Linked DNA regions of Homo sapiens. The protein of the gene in region 1 interacts with the protein of each later gene in a biochemical or structural test. Each region holds a gene or a part of one and is shown in the gene's direction. Other genes may lie near its edges. The genes, in order: PDGFRB, PTPN22 and RPS6KB2.

Region 1 (3,647 bases):
TGATCTGCCTGCTCCCTGCCAGTCACCCTATTCCTGCCTCCCAAGAACTCTATATTCTCAGCTGCTTCCAATCTGCTCCCTCTTGACCCCACATCCCTTCTTCCCCATTCTCCAAGCTCCAGATATCAGCTGCATTTCAACTTGTGACTTGCCTTCTTTCTTACCCTGGCACTGTCAATATCAAACATTAGAGCTGGAAGGGACCAGCTCTAACATTTGATTTATGCTCTTCTGGGAGCATCCCTATTCTGTAACGGGGAGACAGAGGGCCAGAGATGGCAAATGACTTGCCACACAGCAATTCAGGGGATGGCCAGAAACCCAGTTCCCCTGATTTATTCACGGCTCCACTCCTGGCAGATCCCACCGTGGGCTTCCTCCCTAATGATGCCGAGGAACTATTCATCTTTCTCACGGAAATAACTGAGATCACCATTCCATGCCGAGTAACAGACCCACAGCTGGTGGTGACACTGCACGAGAAGAAAGGGGACGTTGCACTGCCTGTCCCCTATGATCACCAACGTGGCTTTTCTGGTATCTTTGAGGACAGAAGCTACATCTGCAAAACCACCATTGGGGACAGGGAGGTGGATTCTGATGCCTACTATGTCTACAGACTCCAGGGTGAGCCCCCTTTCTGGCCTGATGCTCAGCAGAGGCAAGTATAACCCTCCACAGAGGAATAGCCCTTTACAGTTTACAAAGTGTGGGACTCCACTTCCCAGTGGATTCTCACCACAGCCTTCGAAGGAAGATAGTGTTTTCCCCATGTTACAGAAGAGGGAAACTCAGGCGCAGAGAGAGGATGGAGCTTGTCCCCTGTCGCAGAATTCGATAGTGGCAGAGCTGGCCTGTGCAACATGGTCGGTGAGGGCACAAGCTTCAGAGCCAGCTGGGTCGAAATCCCAGCTTTGCTATTTCCTGTCTGAGTGACTTTACACAAAGCACATAATCTCTCTGAGCCTGCTTCCCCTCTTGTAACGTGGGGATAACAATGGCTGCCTACCTCATAGGATCAATTGTGAAGATTAAATAAAAGATGGAGAGTACCTGGCACATGTTATGTGCTCAATACATTTCTCCTGTACATAGATCTCCAGAGGGTACTTTGATTTCCAGACTGTTATCCCTTCTAGAACGTCAGCTCCATAAGAACAGAGATTTTGTCCACTTTGTTCACTACTGTTGCTCCAGTGTCCAGAATAGTACTTGGCATGTAGTAGGTATTCAGTAAATATTTGTTGAATGAATGAATCTTCTACATCAGTCATCCTTTCCCTCTCTAGCCCCCTACCCTATCCCCAAGCTGAAGTGCTAGTGGCTGGTGGTGACTTCCCCAGACCTAAGCCAATCTCTCTCTACCAGTGTCATCCATCAACGTCTCTGTGAACGCAGTGCAGACTGTGGTCCGCCAGGGTGAGAACATCACCCTCATGTGCATTGTGATCGGGAATGAGGTGGTCAACTTCGAGTGGACATACCCCCGCAAAGAAGTAATGTGGGGCCAGGCAGGGGTCGGAGGAGGGGCCAGGAACGGGTGGATATCTGGCTTGCAGGCTGATTTCTCCCCGGCCCCTCCTGATTTGGGGGGCCTGCCCAACCTGTTGCTGCAGAGTGGGCGGCTGGTGGAGCCGGTGACTGACTTCCTCTTGGATATGCCTTACCACATCCGCTCCATCCTGCACATCCCCAGTGCCGAGTTAGAAGACTCGGGGACCTACACCTGCAATGTGACGGAGAGTGTGAATGACCATCAGGATGAAAAGGCCATCAACATCACCGTGGTTGGTGTGTGCCTTGGGCTCAGCCCAATCCCCAATTCCTTCAACGCTCCCCACCCTCACCCACTTTGCTGGGTGCAGAGTGATGGTGAGAGTTGCATTTTTGATACAGTGATCAGGGCTGAGCTGGACCCAGTGCCTGTCACAGCCCCGGGGTATAGTCAGCCACACTCCAGTGCAGCCCTAGCTAGCCTCTGTGCCAACCAAAACCCCAATTCCAGGATAAACCCCAAACCAAAATGTAGTGTCAGCCCCAAATCCAACCCTATCTCAACCTAGACTTTCTGACTAGCCAGAGCCCCAGCCCCAACCTGACTTCCAAGCCCAACTGCCATCCCAGGTCCGGGAAGCCCCATCCCCAAATTCAACCTTATCACTAGTCCCAGCATCAGCCACAGTACTGACCCAGAACAGAGAACTGTTAGTACAACTCTGTTCCCAACCTGGGAGCTGGCCCCAGCATCCATATTAGCCCCAAATTCGGCCCCTTCTCCAGGCCCTGTCCCCAGCCCAATTTCAACCTCAGCTCCGGAAACTCCATGGCTGGCACGGTCCCCAGGCCTGAAGCCCCACCCCACAGGCTGGCCTCCTTTGGGATTCAGTTGGTGCCCTGCCCCCAGGGCCCCGCCCCTGACGGTCACCCCTTGCAGAGAGCGGCTACGTGCGGCTCCTGGGAGAGGTGGGCACACTACAATTTGCTGAGCTGCATCGGAGCCGGACACTGCAGGTAGTGTTCGAGGCCTACCCACCGCCCACTGTCCTGTGGTTCAAAGACAACCGCACCCTGGGCGACTCCAGCGCTGGCGAAATCGCCCTGTCCACGCGCAACGTGTCGGAGACCCGGTGAGCAGCTCGCTCTCCCATCCCATTCTTGAAGTTATTTTTCTTTGCAGCCGCCAGGCAGCCCTCGGCTTTCAGCCACAAACCTAGGCCCAGCTTTCTGAGAGCATATTAGGTGCCAGGTGCTGGGGATGCTGCAGCGACCAGAGCTGACAGTTCATCCCTCCTAGAGTTTCTAGTCTAGTGGAGGAAACAGTCGCCGGTCAGATGATCACCCAGATGTTTAGTTGTCCTTGTGATGGGTGGGGCCAGCAGTAGCAGCCAAGAAGTAAACGGGCAGATGACTGGGGAAGAGGGTGCCAGGCAGGCCACTCATGGCCTGTGGTATCCCTGAGGCTGGAGATTTGCTGGCTGACAGAGACTGTGGTAGGTTAGGATGGAGCAGTGTCCACCTTTCTGAAGGGGAGAGAAATAGGACTTTCCTTCAATGCTCCCCACCCCCACCCACAGTTCATCTCAACCCTCCCTCTTGGCCTAGGGGAACTGCCTGTGGGTGAGGATTTACGAGACCTGGTTTGAGTCCCGGCTCTGCTACCAATGCCGAGATGACCTTGGCAAGCCCTTCCCCTCCCTGGGCCTTGTTCCTCTTTATACCAGGAGGGTGGGGAGAACTGTAAGAGTCCTTCCGACTCTGACAGCTGCCTTTCCTGCTCCCCAGGTATGTGTCAGAGCTGACACTGGTTCGCGTGAAGGTGGCAGAGGCTGGCCACTACACCATGCGGGCCTTCCATGAGGATGCTGAGGTCCAGCTCTCCTTCCAGCTACAGATCAATGGTGATGAGCACGCCCCTCGCCATGTCCCTGCTCCTTCCCCTCCCTGCCCCCGTTCCCTCTCCCTTCCTGCACTGTCCACCCACCCATGGGAGGAGTGGGAGAGGGAGCCTGGAACTCAGGAGATGGATTCTAGGCCACTGACCCACTGCCGTGTGAACCTGGCCTCTGGGCCTCAGTTTCCCCAGCTGTATAAGGAGGCCATCTGGCTAGATTGGTGTTTCCAAAACTTCAGGCACTTAGGTACCAAGG
Region 2 (3,647 bases), on another chromosome or scaffold:
CTTTTTTTCTGATATAACTAGCATAAAATAGTACTTTATTATGTTAATTTCATTCATTGGATTTCTGAGCCTTAAAATGTTCCATGATTATTTTAAATCTGCATTTCCTTATATACGTTTTCTGTTCATCTACTTTCCACAGTAACAACAGCTAATCCATAGAACTGTGTTCCAGACTCTGTGCTAAAAGTGCTTCACAAATAGAACTTCATTTACCTCCCAAAGAACCTTTTAAAATGGCTATCAATGTCCTACATGGTGTCTCTCCAGCTTCTTATAGCATGCTCATTTTCTTGTCCTTGCCATGCTTCCTCTGCCATAGGGCCTTGCACACATGTTGTTACCTCCGCCTTGAACATTCCTCACACTCCTCTTTACCTAGATAACATTTGGTAATTTTTTTTTTTTTTTTTTGAGACGGAGTCTCGCTCTGTCACCCAGGCTGGAGTGCAGTGGCACGATCTCTGCTCACTGCAACCTCTGCCTCCTGGGTTCAAGTTATTCTCCTGCCTCAGCCTCCTGAATAGCTGGGACTACAGGTGTGTGTCACCATGCCCGGCTAATTTTTTGTGTTTTTAGTAGAGACAAGGTTTCACTGTGTTAGCCAGGATGGTCTCTCGATCTCCCGACCTCGTGATCTGCCCACCTTGGCCTCCCAAAGTGATTATAGGCGTGAGCCACCATGCCTGGCCTTTTTTTTTTTTTTTTTTTGAGACAGGGCCTCACTTGGTCATCTAGGCTGGAGTGCAGTAGTGTGATCATGGCTTACTGCAGCCTCAACCTCTAGGGTTCCCATCTCAGCCTCCCAAAGTGTTGAGATTACAGGTGTGAGCCACCATGCCCGACTAATAATTCTTTAGATCTCAATTTGGTGGTCAATTCTTCAAAGAAAGCTTTCTTTTCTTTTCTTCTTTTCTTTCTTTTTTTTTTTTTCTGGAGACAGGGTCTTGCTCTGTCACCCAGGCTGGAGTGCCGTGGCTTGATCATAGCTCACTGCAGACTTGACTTCCTGGACTCAAGTGATCCTCCAGCCTCAGCCTCCCAAAGTGCTGAGATTACAACCATGAGCCACCACACCTGGCCAGAGAAAGCTTTCTGGACCTCTTTGAATAGATCAAATCTTCTATTGTAAGTTCTTATTAGCACCATTTGTTATTTTTCATAGCACTTACCACAATTTCAGTTTTTTGTTTGTTTGTTTGTTTGTCTGTTTTGAGATGGAGTTTTGCTCTTTTTGCCCAGACCAGAGTGCAATGGTGCGATCTTGGCTCACCGCAAGTGACTCTCCTATCTCAGCCTCCCGAGTAGCTGGGATTGCAGGCAAAGTTGCAGTGAGCCGAGATCGCGCCACTGCACTCTAGCCTGGATGACAGAGTGAGATCCCATGTCAAAAAAAAATATATATATATATATATATATTTATTAAATATAAAGGATTCATTGAATCCTAACAGAAAGAAGATACCTAGTTCTGAAGGCCAGGTTTAGGTGCTAACAGTTTAAACTATACTAGAAATCAGACTGGTACTATTGCAACTTCTGGAGATTCATTAGAAGACCAGAGACATATCAAAGATCTGGCTACATCTTGGTTCTATAAAGGAGACATAGATACATCCTGGTTCTGTGTATATTATAGTAATGATACTAACCAAACAGTTATCAACAAGGTACTTCCTACAGAGCAAGTGCACAAACATCTATGAATTGACACTACTCATTCCTGTGAATCAGCCTATCACTTGAACATATTTATCAGCATTTCTTGACCTTTGTGCACATTAAGGTGCAATTTTTAAAAATGCCACCACCAGAATAAATGTATCACATCACCTCTGAAGCTGATTTCTCTAACACCATCTCCAGCCTCTCACTAGGGACCATCTAGTCCTACATTTTCATTTACTCACAGGACACTTAAAACACATTTCTTGGCTGAGCGCAGCGGCTCACGCCTGTAATCCCCACACTTTGGGAGGCTGAGGCAGGCGGATCACTTGAGGTCAAGAGTTCAAGACCAGCCTGGCCAACGTGGTAAAACCCTGTCTCTAATAAAAATACAAAAGTTAGCTGGGCATGGTGGCAGGTGCCTGTAATCCCAGCTACTCAGGAGGCTGAGGTGGGAGGATCACTTGAACCTGGGAGGCAGAGGTTGCAGTGAGCCAAGATTGCGCCACTGAACTCTCTGCTGGGTGACAAGGCAAGATTCTGTCTCAAAAACCAACCAACCAACCAACAACACACACATTTCTTGCCATTTTCTCACATTTTATGTATCTAAAGTTGAACCTCTTGGTTTACTCACCCCAATTTAGCTATTGCCTACCCACCTACCCATTTGCCCCACTATTGCACTGGAAACTAACCTCGATAAGTTTGTCAGTCTTGTTGAAGATGATTGCATTGCACGCTCGTACAATTCAGTCTTGTCCTCCATTCCTACTGGTAGTTCTCCTGATTACTGGATTTAGAAGCCTGAGCTCCTAATGCCATTCCTTACCACTTGTACTTCTTCTGTCCTGATGGAGGCTTGGTATAATACTGACCTATATTTGCAAGGCACTGAGGAACTACCTTGCAGAGTTCTCGAGACAGCCAAACTTTGTGTTCTCCCACCTAGCACAGGAGGGCCAAGTTTAATTTTCCTCTCCCTAAAATGTATCTAAAATGCTACGTCTTCTATCCAGTAATGTAGTCCTTCAAGGCAAAGATATCGTGGTCTTGTGCTTTCTTTTACTTTCTGTTCTTTTTTGGGAGTGACTTTATTTTATTTACTAGTCTGTGAGAATAACATGCAAATGACTCAATCCGAATTTCTAGAATCTAATACTCCTTGTTATACTGGCCAGGATCCCCATTCTCCTCTCCTTTCTTGAAACGAAAGGGGTAGTATCATCTACAAACCAAATGAACTTACTATTAGCTTATCAAGCACACACAGAATCTGGTTTCTCACACATTCCACCCTATTTCAGGGCCCACGAGGGATGTTGAGCTCTCTCTTCACTTTATTCTCTTTTTTATTTTTATTTTTATTTTTTTTGAGGCGGAGTCTCACACTGTCACCCAGGCTGGAGTGCAGTGGTGTGATCTCAGCTTACTGCAATCTCTGCCTTCCAGGTTCAAGCGATTCTCCTTGCCTTAGCCTCCTGAATAGCTGGGATTACAGGGGTCTGCCACCATGCCCAGCTAATTTTTTTTGTATTTTTGGTAGAGACGGGGTTTCACTATGCTGGCCAGGCTGGTCTCGAACTCCTGACCTAGTGATCTGCCTGCCTCGGCATCCCAAAGTGCTGGGATTACAGGTGTGAGCCACCGCACCCAGTCTCTTCACTTTATCCTCTTGGCAACTATTCCCCTGACTTCTCTTGATGGTACTTCCTCTAGGGAACTCACACCCCTACCTTGTAGTTGGCAAAGAAATACCTTCACCCTTTAGATCTCATATCTTTTCTTCACAAACTTAAACCCATCCCCATGACCCTGCTTCCTCTTTTATACCCTTTTGCTTTCTACTTTCAGGGTTCCTCCTTTTCTGGTGTAGTTTATTACTTTTTCTGCCCTAATTTTGCCCTAATTTGTTCTTTCTTGGGATATTGGAGCCCGGGAGTCTGGCAGGAAGAGAGGTGGAAGAGAAAAATGAAGCC
Region 3 (4,156 bases), on another chromosome or scaffold:
GGCTCACCGCAACCTCCGCTTCCCAGGTTCAAGTGATTCGCCTGCCTCAGCCTTCCCGAGTAGCTGGGATTACAAGCATGCACCACCATGCCCAGCTAATTTTGTGTTTTTAGTAGAGACGGGGTTTCTCCATGTTGGTCAGGCTGGTCCTGAACTCCCGACCTCAGGTGATCCGCCTGGCTCGGCCTCCCAAAGTGCTGGGATTACAGGTGTGAGCCACCGTGACCAGCCAGGTTTTCGGGTTTTATCTGTTTGAGACTTGGTCTCACTCTGCCGCCCAGCCTGGAGCGCAGTGGTGCAATCTTGGCTCACTGCAACCTCTATCGCCCGAGTTCAAGCGATTCTCCTGCCTCAACCTCCCGAGTATCTGGGAGTACAGGTGCGCGCCACCACACCCGTCTAATTTTTTGTATTTATAGTAGAGGCAGAGTTTCATCATGTTGGCCAGGCTGGTCTCCAACTTCTGACCTCAAGTGATCCACCCACCTCGGCCTCCGAAAGTGTTGAGATTACAGGTGTGAGCCACCGCCTCCGGCCTGTTTGTTTTTTTGAGACAGGATCTCACTGTGTCACCCAGCCTGGAGTGCAGTGGCACCATCATAGCTCACTGTAACCTTGAACTCCTGGCCTCAAGTGATCCTCCCAACTTGGCTTCCCAAAGTGCTACGATTACAGGCGTGAGGCATCGTGTCCGGCCTCAACAACGTTTTTTGAAGTGTCTATTCTGTACCAGGTGCCTAAATGTGCTTAAATTAAGAAGGGAGTAAACGCCAACAAAATCCCATATTTACAGGTCTATCACTGACCCCCAAAACCCTATTTAAGGCGGGAACCTGGCAACATAGCCTGGCAGTGAGCTGGCCACTCAGTAAATGCTCCGATTTGCAGGGTCCTCGAGCCAGAGGCACTTTGAGGAGACCCTGATGCAGCCGCCTCCCTTTCTGGAGTGAACCGAAAGCAACGCGACCTGCCTTTCATCACGCAGCCGGCCTGGCAGTACCCGTCTCCAACAGGGCTGGGGATTGCATTTACATTCACACCTGCATACACTTCCGACCCTGCTCCATCCAAACTCAAAACACCGTAGAACCAAAACGGGCTCCCAGAAAGCCTTGCTGGGAAGACCGAGGGTCCTGCGGAAAGGATTCTGCAGGCTGAAGGCTAGGCGCCTCGCCACTCTAGGACTACAATTCCCGAGAGGCCTTGCGACGGAAGCCATCTTTGTTCCCCACCAGGCTAAGCGATTTTCCGGAGGGGGAGTAAGATCCCTTGCGTCACCGGCGCGCGCAGCTGCCGTCGCGGAGAGATGATGTTTAGGTCCGGGACTGTCAGTCAGTGCGCGGCCAGGTACGGGCCGACGGGCCCGCGGGGCCGGCGCCGCCATGGCGGCCGTGTTTGATTTGGATTTGGAGACGGAGGAAGGCAGCGAGGGCGAGGGCGAGCCAGAGCTCAGCCCCGCGGTGAGTGCCCTGCCCTGGCGCGACTGGATCCTGGAGCCGATCCTGTCACCCAGCCGAGGCCGGAGCGGCGGCTCCGCACGCCCAGAGCGGGCTCCGACTCTTTGCAGACCCAGATCCTTCTCAGATCCCGGTCTCTATTAAGTTCTGATCCCACCCTCACCCCGACCTCTCTTCCAGAACCCCAGCCTTTTCTCCCGATTCTCCCTTTCCTGCCTTCGGTTTCTTCCCAATTCTTACCCATCCCCTACTAGCTGCCATCCCTGACACCCTTCTCTCCTGGGCCACGCAGTCCAACCTGAACGGGAGCGGGGAGGTATCCTGGCACCTTCCTTGGCTCTTACCCCTCGGTTTCTCACAGGACGCATGTCCCCTTGCCGAGTTGAGGGCAGCTGGCCTAGAGTGAGTGAGGGTCGTGTTGGGGGAGGGGGGAATGGAGTGGGGAAGGGGAACTGGGGAGCACTGGAGCCTTGTCCTCATTAACTCCTTGTGTCCGTAGGCCTGTGGGACACTATGAAGAGGTGGAGCTGACTGAGACCAGCGTGAACGTTGGCCCAGAGCGCATCGGGCCCCACTGCTTTGAGCTGCTGCGTGTGCTGGGCAAGGGGGGCTATGGCAAGGTAGGGGCGGGCGCACCCTCCTCCTGGCCTCACAGCCTCCATCTGGAGGCAGCAAAGGGTTCTCAAAACAAATTAGACTTGTGAATCAGCAGGGCCTCTAATGGGATTCAGAGCCAGAAACATAAAGGAGGGAAGGCCAAATCCTCTCCAATCGGACTTGAAATCTTCACTGCCCCACCCTTGGCAGGGCCTAGGCCTCCTGATCCCAAAGCCAGAGCTTCAGGGTGGGGCTTCTTGAAGATAGGATGTGGAGAGGGAAGTTGATCCTGTCTCCCCTGCCCTACAGGTGTTCCAGGTGCGAAAGGTGCAAGGCACCAACTTGGGCAAAATATATGCCATGAAAGTCCTAAGGAAGGTGAGTCACTCGTTCAGCCAACGAATACTGTGTGGCTGCCATTCCCAACATGCTGTACCAGGCTTTGGGAAGACAGCAGGGAACACAGTGGAGGAGGATCCCTGACTTTGGCGTTTGCTGGTTTATTGTCTGTTGTGATGTGTATTGTCTTGCAGTAATTCTCAATGGGGGCAATTTTGACTCCCAGCAGACATTTGACAACAGTGTCTGGACACTATTTTATTTTATTTTTTTTTAAGACGGAGTCTTGCTCTGTCACCCAGGCTGGAGTGCAGTGACGCGATTTTGGCTCACTGCCACCTCTGTCTCCCAGGTTCAAGCGATTCTCGTGCCTTAGACTCCGGAGTAGCTGGGATTACAGGCGCTTGCCACCACACCCAGCTAATTTTTGTACTTTTTTGTAGAGGTGGGGTTTCGCCTGGCTGGTCTCTAACTCCTAATCTCAGGTGATCTGCCCGCCTTGGCCTCCAACGTGCTGGGAGCTGGGATTACAGGCATGAGCCACCGTCCCTAGCTTTTTTTTTTTTTTGGATGGAGTCTTGCTTTGTTCCCCAGACTGGAGTGCAGTAGTGCACTCTCTGCTCACTGCAACCTCTGCCTCCCGGGTTCAGGTAATTCTCTTACCTCAGCCTCCTGAGTAGTTGGGACTACAGGCTTGTGCCACCACACCTGGCTAATCTTTGTATTTCTATTTGTTTACCTACTTATTTTGAGACGGAGTCTCACTCTGTCACTCAGGCTGGAGTGCAGTGGTGCGATCTCGGCTCACTGGCAACCTCCACCTCCCAGGGTGAAGTGATTCTCCTGCCTCAGCCTCCTGAGTAGCTGGGATTACAGGCGTGAACCACCACTCCTGGCTAATTTTTTTTTTTTGTATTTTTAGTAGAGATGGGTTTTTGTCATGTTGGTCAGGCTGGTCTTGAACTCCTGACCTCAGGCTATCCGCTCACCTTGGCCTCCCAAAGTGCTGGGATTACAGCCATGAACCACCGTGCCTGGCCTAGTTTTTGTACTTTTTAGTGGAGGCAGGGTTTCACCATGTTGGTCAGGCTGGTCTCGAACTCCTGACCTCAGGTGATTCGCCTGCCTCAACCTCCCAAAGTGCTGGGATTACAGGTGTGATCCACTGCGCCTGGCATGGACACATTTTTGATTGTCAAGGCAAGAGGGGAGTGTTACTGGCACCCGGTGGGTGGAGACCAGGGATGCTGCTGAACATCCCACGATGCGCAGGGCAGCCTCCCACAACAAAGAATGACCTGGTCCCAGGTGTCAGTAGTGCCGAGGTTGAGAAACCCTGTGTTAGAGGATAAACCCATCCCTGAAAATGATGGTGGCTGACAGCAGCAGAATTATGGAGAAATACAATGCAGTGACAGAGGATGCAGCAGTTAACAAACAGATGGATGGTCTGAGGAGCTCTGGTTGCCCCCATTTTTTTTTTTTTTTTTTTTTTGAGATAGTGTCTCGCTCTGTCACCCAGGCTGGAGTGCAGTGGCGTGATCTCAGCTCACTGCAACCTCTGCCCCTGGGTTCAAGCGATTCTCCTGCCTCAGCCTCCTGAGCTGGGATTACAGGCGTGTACCATCATACCCAGCTAATTTTTCTATTTTTAGTAGAGATGGGGTTTCACCATGTTGGCCAGGCTGGTCTCAAATTCCTGACCTCAGGTAATCCGCCTGCCTTGGCCTCCTAGAGTGCTGGGATTACAGGTGTGAGCCACT

Evidence for each region.
Region 2: of the proteins of PDGFRB (region 1) and PTPN22, one has a biochemical effect on the other in vitro, tested with the Homo sapiens proteins (one large-scale study listed by IntAct).
Region 3: of the proteins of PDGFRB (region 1) and RPS6KB2, one has a biochemical effect on the other in vitro, tested with the Homo sapiens proteins (one study listed by BioGRID).

The regions. Positions count from the first base shown.
Region 1 is NC_000005.10:150,131,730-150,135,376, reverse strand, and holds part of PDGFRB (platelet-derived growth factor receptor beta isoform 1 precursor), read left to right. Parts: intron 1-360; coding exon 361-627; coding exon of another isoform or gene 628-661; intron 662-1,368; coding exon 1,369-1,496; intron 1,497-1,616; coding exon 1,617-1,791; intron 1,792-2,434; coding exon 2,435-2,627; intron 2,628-3,282; coding exon 3,283-3,398; intron 3,399-3,647. UniProt on the Homo sapiens protein: Tyrosine-protein kinase that acts as a cell-surface receptor for homodimeric PDGFB and PDGFD and for heterodimers formed by PDGFA and PDGFB, and plays an essential role in the regulation of embryonic development, cell proliferation, survival, differentiation, chemotaxis and migration.
Region 2 is NC_000001.11:113,861,679-113,865,325, reverse strand, and holds part of PTPN22 (tyrosine-protein phosphatase non-receptor type 22), read left to right. Parts: intron 1-1,048; exon of another isoform or gene 1,049-1,128; intron 1,129-3,647. UniProt on the Homo sapiens protein: Acts as a negative regulator of T-cell receptor (TCR) signaling by direct dephosphorylation of the Src family kinases LCK and FYN, ITAMs of the TCRz/CD3 complex, as well as ZAP70, VAV, VCP and other key signaling molecules.
Region 3 is NC_000011.10:67,427,164-67,431,319, forward strand, and holds the start of RPS6KB2 (ribosomal protein S6 kinase beta-2), read left to right. Parts: upstream 1-1,330; 5' UTR 1,331-1,382; coding exon 1,383-1,460; intron 1,461-1,818; coding exon 1,819-1,859; intron 1,860-1,956; coding exon 1,957-2,077; intron 2,078-2,363; coding exon 2,364-2,432; intron 2,433-4,156. UniProt on the Homo sapiens protein: Phosphorylates specifically ribosomal protein S6. Seems to act downstream of mTOR signaling in response to growth factors and nutrients to promote cell proliferation, cell growth and cell cycle progression in an alternative pathway regulated by MEAK7.